Linked DNA regions of Homo sapiens: region 1 is linked to region 2. Evidence: fine-mapped expression QTL. A gene starts in region 2. The other region holds a variant in brackets. All regions are shown on one strand. Distances are from middle to middle.

The links. PIP is the estimated chance that this variant, and not a neighbour inherited with it, causes the effect.
Region 1: its variant is the best candidate, but not a certain one, in a credible set for the expression of ADGRA2 in whole blood (INTERVAL, PIP 0.89).

Annotation. Positions count from the first base shown.
Region 1 is chr8:37,707,184-37,712,552 of GRCh38, reverse strand. No RefSeq gene overlaps it. Among named protein-coding and RNA genes, the nearest start is that of ZNF703, 14 kb to the right of the region's middle. The variant A/G (reference allele first, on the strand shown) is at 2,284.
Region 2 is chr8:37,793,736-37,799,104 of GRCh38, reverse strand. It overlaps ADGRA2 (adhesion G protein-coupled receptor A2), which reads right to left and starts at 2,222. Exons shown (of 19, transcript NM_032777.10): 1 at 1,571-2,222. The coding sequence starts at 1,836. RefSeq lists silencers at 1,608-1,697, 1,978-2,147, 2,158-2,397 and enhancers at 2,661-3,226, 3,227-3,792.

The DNA of each region.
Region 1 (5,369 bases), 87 kb after region 2:
AAGGAAAGTTAGCATTAAGAGTGCATGGGAGAGTTGGGCGTGGTGGCTCACACCTGTAATCCCAGCACTTTGGGAGGCTGAGGTAGGTGGATCACTTGAGTTCAAGACCAGCCTGGCCAACATGGTGAAATCCCGTCTCTACTAAAAATACAAAAATTAGCCAGGCATGGTGGCGCATGCCTGTAATCCCATAATCCCAGCTACTTGGGAGGCTGAGGCAGGAGAGTTGCCTGAACCTGGGAGGCAGAGGCTGCAGTGAGCCGAGATTGGGCCACTGCACTCCAGCCTGGGTGACAGAGCTAGACTCTGTCTCACAAAAAAAAAAAAAAAAAAGGTGCATGGGAGAACACCCTCATCTCCTTACCCCTCTTCAAAGTGCTCTCCCTGCTGAGTGGGCTTGAGGGGTGTAAATGAGAGTGGAAGGAGACACCGAAGTGGGCGTAGCTCTCAAGGCATGTGGGGACGAGGGAGGCTCTTCACCCTAATAGTGGCTCTCAACCCAGGCTGATACCACCGCCAAGGGCATCTGGATTATTCTGATGGTCCTCATGGTTGAGAGGCATTACAAGCAATTGGTATCTTGAGACTAAGGATGCTAAACCTTCTACCTTGCACAGAAGGGTCCTGCTCAGTAAAGAAGTGTCTTGCCCAAATATCAAGAGTGTCTCCTTTAATAAATACTGTGGGGTAAGTGAAAAGCAGGGACTTTGATGCTGGATCCCTTTGGGGCCTTAGACACTCCATGGTTTCTGTCCCTAGAGCTCCTGAGTTGCATGGAGAGAAAGCAGAGAGGCCCGTCCCTGACCATCAGGGCATGGGACGTAAGCTGAAGGAGAGCCTGGGTCACCATCCCCTTCTGTTTCTTCTCCACCCTCCCTCAGCGCCCCGCCACTCTGTACAGATTTCTGGCAGGCCTGGCTCACTCAGCCAGGCCTCACTCAGCCGTGATGCCTAACTTTTTCCATATGCAAAGGCTGCTCCCGCTTCAGAAACACGAGAGAGGGCCGCGGGAGATGCACAGCCAGAGGGACTGTGGTGGAGGTGAGGGGCGGCCTGGGGAATGGGAAAGGTTTTTTGGGGGGTGTCACCATGAGGGGAAGTGCTGGGGAAGTCCACGGCAACACGTTCTAGCCTGTTTGGAGGCCGGCTGTTGGCACCAGGAGAAATCCATCCTGCAGAGCCAACCCTCATTAATCATCCGGGCGGCTGAACTGCCAGCTCCTTTCAAGATCTTTCAAGAAGGGTTTTCACCCAAAATAGAGTTGAAAATGTGCTGGGCCCTACTCAGAATCTCATCAGTCTGGGCATTATGGGAAGTGTCAGGCGGACTGTGACAGACAAGGCCCACTCTGTTCAAGGGGTCCTGACTCCCACAGCCTGTCATATCAAGCGCCTGATCAAATTTGACAGCTTCATTTGTACCTACAGAATAGATAAAAGGGGCTGTTCATTGAAACAAATGGAGGGGAAGGGGTGGGGGAGGGAAAGGAGGTGAGAGTGAGAGGGAACGTGTGTGTGTGTGTGTGTGTGTGTGTGTGTGTGTTGGGGGAAGAATGGCACTGGGGAAGGGGCAGGAAGGGGAAGATTATGGTGAGGGGCAAGGGTTGCCAAGAAGGATTCTGTCTAAGATCATTTTCTTCTCCAATACTTTCAAAGAAGGGAGAGGGGTCGGGGGCGGCAGGTGAGTATCAAGAGGGGATGGGAGTGAAAGCCCTACCTGTCAGTGTGACCATCACGAGCCTCCTGAGACCTCCTCTCTGTGCTGTGTGCCCTGAAGCAGTCACAGAGCCAGGAGGGTGGGCCCTGGGGACAGGGGAGCCCACAGTGAGTGGCTGGGACTAGGGGAGTCAGCCCCGGCGAGCGTGACACAGGTTTCAATTGCAGGCCCCATGCTACCTGTGCAGAGAGCCTTACCTTTCTCTGTGGCAGGCTTTGAATTGTGCCCCTTCTCTGCAGTGAGGCTGTTGCCCCTTCTTTGGCCAGGTTGCTGGGTGGCTGCACCTCTGCGTGTGGCCCTGAAGACCTGAATTCCTTAAGTTATACTTAGTGTACCTTTGTGCTCTCCGCACACAGAAGCTGGTTTGTGTGAGTGGGAGAGGTGTCCCGCAACACAGCTTGCGCTGTCCCGCCTTGGGCCTGGCTCTGGCTGCCCCACTGGCCTCGAAGACCTCTCCTTTCTCCTCTGGGGCTGAGTGAATGATGATCCCTTCCAGCTCCGAGGATGCTCTAAATACCTTGTACTTTATGTGGGTCCCCTTCACTTGTGATCGTACTTTACTTTGC[A/G]TAACTAGTATGTGCTTGTATGGGTTTCCCTATTGATTGTAAACAGTTTGATGTCTGGGGCATGTCCTGTGCATCTTCCATCCTCCAATAGCATTTAGCACACATAATAGGTTCTTCAGAACTGCTTTTGATTGACAATTAGCATTCCACACACTGTAAGGCTCAACTGTGACCATCAGGAGGTGATCAGGGGATTGAAGGGCTCCTTTCTGATCTATGGTCTTTAGAAGAGAGGGCCAGAGGTTAGCAGGGCTCCCCCTATCCTACCCCCAGCCACGTGGCACCTTTGGAAGATTTAGAAGAAGGCCCCCTTCCAAGCTGATGCAGTCCCAGGTCTGGTGTCTGTGGAGCTCCCAGTTGTTCCCTTGGCCAGATGCTGTCCTGTGGGGCATTGCCTGCACAATAGTATGTGAAGGGTGGCCCTGGCCACAGGTAGACAGGTTTTTATAACCAGATAGCCTTGGTAGGAATCTTGCCTCTACTGCTTACTGGTTTTGTGGCCTTAGGCAAGATACATCCAACAATAGACTTGCTGCAGAGAATTGCTGCCAGGATTCAAGGAAAGCTTCTATGCAAAGTGCTCAGCACAGTGCCTGGCACACAGCAAGAGCTCAATAAATGTTAGAGAAAGAAAAAGGCTCATATCTGGTCTGCGATGCTCAGACTTCTTCATTTGAACTTACAGCAGCATTCTATTGACAGCTCTTGTTTGTCAGTGACCATGGATCATTATCACTTTGTATCAATCCTCTGCTTTTTGTAAGTTTCACAGATGCAAGCATTGTTAGAGTCCAATACACCAAAGATGCCTATCCTTCTCGTTAGGAGGGCTTGCCAATATGCTGCCTCCATGCTCAAATAGGTGATCCTCTGCAAGCCACCAGGTGGAGGTCTCAGTACTACAAAGTATGCAGAAGGTCACAAATTTCTATGAACTTCAGGGTCTCATAGGCCTGAGCCTTCTGTCCTAACCTTAGTGGAGACAGCCTAGTCTGGCTAGAGCAGTCCATCCCCAGATGCACCTGTGTTTCCTACAATTTCAGATGTAAGCTTTTAAGCTTTCTCCAGGTAGATAGGGCTCAGTGGGTTTGGAAGGGCTTCTGTTTGGTAAGGTCTGGGAAGCAGAGTGGAGGAGAGTAAAATGACCACAGACAGGGCAGTATCGAAGCTGCCGAGACAACAGCTGGGGTGGACTCACCTCCAGGCCTCCTTCTCCTCTGGCACCAGGGAGAAGCAATGTGCCACCCTTGCAGTTAGGAGGGGCCATGGGACCAGTGCTGGCCAGAAGATTGTGAGCAGAGGTGACATATTCATTTTTGGCCTGCAACATGTGATTGTTTGTGTGAGATGCTCCGGCTCTTCCTCTGTGTGTGTTCCTCTGCCAGTCAGTGGGCCTGATTAATTATGTGGCCCTGATTAATTATGTGGCACAGTTGATGCTTTCTGATGCATCGGTTTGGTTAGATTGAACTCCAGTCCCCAGTTACTAAATCAAACAAGAATCTAGGTGCTTCTGTGAAGGAATTTTGCAAATGTGATTGAAGTCCCTAATCAGTTGACTTTAAGTTGATCAAAAGAGAAGTGATCTAGGGTGGGCCTGACCTAATGAAGCAAGCCCTTTAAAAGGGGGCTTAGGCCTTCCTTGTTCTCAGAGACTCCACATGGCTCAAGCCAGCAGGGTGTCTTGTGATGCTGGCTTGTGATCTTCCCTTCCTGTCTGCCTGCCCTACAGACTTCCAACTCACTTAGCTAGCCATGATTGCGTAAGTGAACGCCTTGAAATAAATGACTCCATATATTACTGCTTCTGCTTCTCTGGTTGAACACTGACTGATAGAGATCCCCGTCAATTCACAATGGATACACAGTATAAGTGGAAAAAAAAAAGAGGACTTTGTTGTGTTAAGCCACTGAGATTTGTGTGTTAATTTGTTACCACCGTATAACCTAGCCTATACTCTTGATTACTGCAATGGCATTAATAGAGTCCTCAGCACATTATCTCTCTCTCTCTTTTTTTTTTTTGGAGACAGGGTCTTGCTCTGTTGCCCAGGCTGGAGTGTAGTGGCACAATCGTGGCAAACTACAGCCTTGACCTCCCCGGGCTCAGGTGATTCTCCCACCTCAGCTTCCTGAGTAGCTGGGACCACAGGCAAGCATCACCAGGCCTCTCTAATTTTTGTATTTTTTGTAGAAATGGGGTTTTGGCATGTTGTCCAGGCTGGTCTCGAACTCCTGGCCTCAAGTGATCCATCCACTTCAGTCTCCCAAAGTGTTGGGATTACAGGTGTGAGCCAATGTGCCTGGCCAGTGTGGGCTAAGATATAATGTGATATCTTAGTTTATACACCAATCTCCCATTTGACTGCAAACTCCTTGTGGCAAGGCCAGTATCTCCTCCATCTTTTGAATTCCCAGAGCAGACCAAAATACTTAGTAGGTAGTGGTCTGTAAATGTTTACTGAATGCTCAAACCCAATGCACTGACCAGCATCTCAGCTCTTGTTTGGGGCAGGACCAATTTCATTTGAATTGTACATAGTCAACTGGTCCCAACACACACAGGCACAGCCAGAACTTTCCAGGGAGCAGGCACCCTTATTCCATTTATCCATAGCATCTAGGCCTGCCAACATACAAAGTCTGAAGCTGCTTGGCTAAGTGTAAAGAGTTTTAGAGTCAGAACCATATTAGAATCCTGGCTTCATGCTCTTTAACTGTGAGATCTTGGGCAATTTTTTTTTTTTTTTCTGAGACAGAGTCTCACTCTGTCACCCAGGCTGGAGTGCAGTGGCGGCTCACTGCAACCTCTGCCTCCTTGGTTCAAGTGATTCTCCTGCCTCAGCCTCCTAAGTAGCTGGGATTACAGGTGTGTGCCACCATGCTCAGCTAATTTTTGTATTTTTTTGTAATTTTATATTGTAATTTTATATTTTTAGTAGAGACAGGGTTTCACCACATTGGCTAAGCTGGCCTCGAACTCCTGACCTCAGATGATCCGCCTGCCTTGGTCTCCCAAAGTGCTGGGATTACAGGCATGAGCCACTGCGCCCAGTCTTGGGCAATTTACTTGACCTCTATAAATT
Region 2 (5,369 bases):
GCACCCGGCCTCAGCTCTGAATTCTTATGCAGCTGGGACTCACGCAGACGCTACCGACTGTTCCGCAGAGCAAGCATTTTTCTCCTCCAGAACTAAGTGAGCTGGGGAATGCCCAGGCCTGCCTGGACCCTCAAACCCCAGCGGACAGTCAGAGAGAGCTGCCCTGAACAGCCACAGGTGCCTTCCCTGGCCACAGCCTTACCCTGAGCAGCAGGGAGGCGGCAGCGAGCAGACACACCGCCTCCACCCTTAAGGCACACACATGCACACACACACCCGGGCCGGGGAAAATGCAGGCCGGGCGGCCAGCGTCAGAGGCTGACCAGTTGTGTCCTGTCAGGAAGCGGGCAGCCTCTGAACTCACCCAACCAGAGGCGTTACTGTATTGTTCTGGACACAATCGAAAAGACTGGGCCAGCCCCGACTGCGGGCAAGGGGCGGTGGAGAAACGGTTGCCACTGGGGTCAGGAGGACAGGGAAAGGGAAGCGGCTCTTAGGCTGGATTTGGGACAGGAAAGGAAGCGGCGGCCGCGGGGGCCCGACCCTCAAATCCACGGCGTGCGTGGAGCTGCGAGCACGTGGTCGGCGCAGGAAATCTCTGCGGTGGGGAGGGGTCGCCAATGCTCGCGCGGCTGCTGGGACTTGCGACCCCCTTGTAGGAGGCTTGGGGTCGGGCTGCGGCGCTGCAGCGCTCGCTGCCAGCAAAGCAAAGGCGTACTGAGGCCCTGACTAAGAGGGAAGTCGCGGAAGGAGGCCCGGGTGGGCTGCGGTGAGGGAACCCCGCTTCCCCAGCCGCGTTTCTTTCTTCGCAATCTTTGCGCGAAGTCAATGGAGAAACAGCCAAAGCTCGAGTTACTTCCAGGAGAGGCAAAGGAGAGGCAAGGACGCGGGACCCAGCACAGAGCTCACTGCACAAACGGCGCCGTGGGAGAGGGGCCTCTAGAGGGATGGGGACGCCAGGGTCTCCTGCAGCCCAGGAGCGCCGGTATTCCAAGGGCCGACTTTTCTGAGCCCAGCCTCCCCTTGCCCTAAGGAGACCGGCTGGAAGCGGCGCTGGCAGGCCAGGGGGCAAGGATGGGATGACCCCAATTGAAGGGACAAGGCCAGCCAGGTAAATCCGGAGACTCCTCCAGCCCAGTCCGGGACGCGACCGTAGTGGTTAGGACCACAGCCCCCTCCTGGGCCACGAGCGTCGATCTTTCCTGAGCATTCCCCGCTCTCACCCTTCTCAGGTCCCCAAAGTCCGCAACCCTAGTCCAGGCTGGAAATCCGGGGCGTGGGTGCCCTGCAGGCGTGCTCTCCACTTCACCTGTGCAGGTGAGTGGGCGCCTGCGGTGCCTTTCTCTGGGGTGCGCCTGTCCCCCGCAGCCCCTTCCCGCCTCCACGCTCCTGGAGCCCCAGTCTCTCCCCTGCTCCTCCAATCTTCCCCTCTGGGGGCCTGAACCCAGGCCTGTCCAGAAATCTCTGAAGTGGGGGGATAGCCCCCTTCCCCCTGCTCCCACCCCTCCCGTCTCGCCTCCCTTCGTCCCCAGTCCCGGCTCGGACGGAACTGGCCTGGTAGGGTACTCACAGGGTAACGGTGCCGTTAGGCAGAAGGCCGGGCTCGGGAGGCTCCGGGAGGTCCCCGCCGCTGCACACCACCCTCCGCCGAGCCGGGCCAGGGACGCCGCCGCTCAGCCCCTTGGGCCGCTCCCCCGAGCACTTGCAGCTGCGGATGGATAGCGGGCAGCCGGGCGCGCCCCGAGCCTCGGGCGCCAGGAGCAGCAGGAGCCACGGCAGCAGCGGCAGCAGCAGGCGCGCGGGCGCCCCCCGCATCCTGCGTCCCCCGGCGCCCATCAACCCATCGCCCCGCGGGGACCCACAGCGCTGGGGCCGGGCTGCGCGCCGGCCGGAGGGACCCAGGCGTGCGGGAGGAGTGCTCAGCGGGGGCCCGGGGCTCCCGAGGGCGTGGAGGGGGGCCCTGGGCGGAGGCGAGCCCCGGGGTCCCCGCCGCCGCGCCCCGGGGGCATGTCCTGCGAGCGCCCCGGCGGGGAGGACGTCGGCGCGGCTGTCAGCGCAGCGCGGGCAGCTCCCAGCTGCGCGGCCGGAGTCTCAGCGCCCGGCCCTCGGGACACTGGAGGCCCGGCCCCTCCGCGTCGCCTGCTCGCTGGGCGCTGGGCTGGGACCTAGCGGATCGCGCCGGGCTCCTGCTGCCGCCGCCGCCGCCGCTCCGTGCCATGGATGGAGGCAGCTCCGCGCCGCGCCGCTCCCGCCGCCGGTCCCCGCCCGCCCGGGCCTTCCGCGGGGCCCTAGCGCCGACCGACACGCGGCCAGGCCTAGACCCTCTGCCGAGTGGGGGCGGGCCAGCTGGTTCGAGGACCCTGCGTCCCCGCGCCCGCCCTGCACCAACACTCCTCTCCCGCTTGTCCCCGCGCCCCGGGCCAGGACCCTTCCTTTCCGCAACCCATCTCAGACCTCTGAGCCGACCACCACCACCTTCCACAAAATTTCCCTCGTCCGTGCCGGTGCAGCTTGCGTCTCCAGGCTGCTGGGGCCCTCCTGGACCCGCGGGCTTGGACAGAGACGTCTGGGGCGCCCTGTTTTGGGTTGAACTTGGTGGAAGGCTCCGAGGTTTCCTTTGGCCCCTGACACGATGATCAGTCTGGAAGTCGGCTCTCACTCTCCTTCCAGCTCCGGTGGAGGCAGCCGCAGGAGGATGGCAGCCGAGACAAGGAGGCAGCAGACCCTCCTCCGCTGCGGTGACCTCGCTCAGCGGGGGGTGCATGTCATTCGGCCAAGGAGAGGTCAAAGGCCAAGGCAGACAAGGCTAGAGGCTAGACTGGGCCTCCTACATTTTCCACAACGCTGTGTGTGTGTGTGTGTGTGTGTGTGTGTGTGTTTCGGGGACAGTGAGTGGGACAAGGGAAAAGTAGATGAGAAGGAGCAGGGCTTTGCAGCAGGGTGTGGAAAGAGCACTGCGCAGTGAGTCTGGAGACCCCTATTCCAGACTCGGCTCTGCCTCTCATTACTGTCTGACCTTGGACACAGCCCCTAGCTTGCTGGGGTAGCAGATCTCTGGGGTTGAAATGGGGCTCTGCCTGCTCCCCAGTTTATAGAGTGGCATTAGATGCCCAGTAAATCGTGGCATTAGAATAAGAGAGTGTGGTGGGGGGGAGGGGCACATGGTTTCCAAAGGCAGAGGACTGGTGGTGGCAGGGGTGACCTTGACAACTAGTGGTGGGTATAAAGCTGCCTGCAGGCCGGGCGCGGTGGCTGACACCTGTAATCCCAGCACTTTTCGAGGCCGAGGCGGGCGGATCACTTGAGGTGAGGAGTTTGAGATCCACCTGGCCAAAATGATGAAACCCTGTCTGTACTAAATATACAAAAATTATCCGGGCGTCGTGGTGGGCGCCTGTAATCCCAGCTACTTGGGAGGCTGAGGCACGAGAATTGCTTGAACCCAGGAGGCGGAGGTTGCAGTGAGCTGAGAGCGTGCCACTGCACTGCAGCCTGGTGACAAAGTGAGACTCCGTCTCAATAAATAAATAAATTAATTAAAAAAAAAACAGCCTGCAGTACACCGGAACCAGGGCTGGGGACAGGCAGTAAGAAGTGCAGCCCAGGGGTCTGCTTCCTCTGTTTCCCCACAGAAGCTCACCTTTCTGTTGCTTAATAGAGCTGCCGGGATGGGGCAGGACTCCCGTTCCCCCTCCTTCACTCTACCACCCAAGCGGTCCCCAAGGTGAATGCCACATTCTTTAGTGAGCTTAGCCCTGCTGATGTGCGGTGGTGCCTTTTCTAGGGCCCCTGTGCCTGTCAGCCAAGTCTACCCTGACTATGCAGGGAATGGCTTTCTTCTCTTGCCCGTTGGCGTTGGCGGCAGGCAGGGGCCTAGATGTTGGCTTCTTCACTTTCCCTCCCTGGCTCCACAGATCTCCCCCAGTTGCAGGCTCTCTGGTTCCTTGAACTTCCAAAGATAAATAAATAGTGATTGCAAATGGAGGAAGGGAGAAGGGGAATGGACTCCCCCAGCAGGAGCCCTCACAGGCGGTGGCCCAGGCTGCATTCCTCAGGAAAGAGCTGACAGCAGAGCCACAGCCCATAGGCAGGGCTGTGCAGCCCTCCTGCTCACAGGCAAGGAAGACTCTGAGATCTCTGGCCTGGGTCATATAGCTTTTCTGTGATTTCCTTTGGCTAAATGAAGACACTCAAAGTCTAAAGAAGAATTCTACTGGAACACCCACTCCTGGAGGCTGAACAGAGGCCAAAGGACATTTAATGAGGCGAGGCTTCCCCACCACTAGGAATGAAATGTCTGATGGAGACATCTACAAAACACTGGACTGTCCTGAGGGTCACCACATTTGACTTCTTACCCACCCAGGGAGGTGATGAAGTGGAGGTTACTTTCTTATTTTGCAAGTATGGATGAAGAAACTGAGTCACTGAGACTAGAGTCCAAGGGTAGGAACTTACTTTCTGATTCCTTTTTTTGTGTATGTGTGAGACAAGGTCTCTCTCTGTCACCCAGGCTGGAGTGCAGTGGCAGGAACACGGCAGCCTCGATCTCCTGGGTTCAATCCTCCCACCTCCGCCTCCCAAGTAGCTGGAACTACAGGTTTGTTATTGCATGCAACTAATTTTTTTTAATGTTTTGTAGAGATGGGGATCTCGCCATGTTGCCCAGGCTGGTCTCAAACTCCTGGACTCCAGCAATCTGCCTGACTTGGCCTCCCAAAGTGCTGGGATTACAGGTGTGAGCCACCATGCCTGGCCATGAGCATGTTTGTCTGTTTGTTTGTTTGTTTGTTTGTGATGGAGTCTAGCTCTGTCACCCATGCTGGAGTGCAGTGGCACAATCTCAGCTCACTGCAACCTCTACCTCCTGGGTTCAAGTGATTCTCCTGTCACAGCCTCCCAAGTAGCTGGGATTACAGGCGCCTGCCACCATGCCTGGCTAATTTTTGTATTTTTAGGAGAGACAGGGTTTCACCATATTGGCCAGGCTGGTCTCAAACTCCTGACCTCAGGTGATCCACTCGCCTTGGCCTCCCAAAGTTCTGGGATTATAGGAGTGAGCCACCGCAACCTGCCATGAGCATGTTTTAATCCTTTTTTCTTCTTATTTCTAGTATACCGTGCCCGGCCATGGTTCCTTTTTAAGTGCTTTCTTCTCTGAGCCACAGGGAGACTTTCCCCTGGGAAGCTTCCTGCAGACCTCTCCTCAGAGGTGCAGTGAGGAGTGAATGAATTGCCCACATCAAAATCTTTTTGTTTTGAGGTTTGTTTGAGATAGGAGAATGACTCGAATTTAGTTCCAGACCTCAAAAAATCTGCTAGGGAGCCTGACCAATTAAACACACCTTGATCAGAGGTGATAAGCTCTT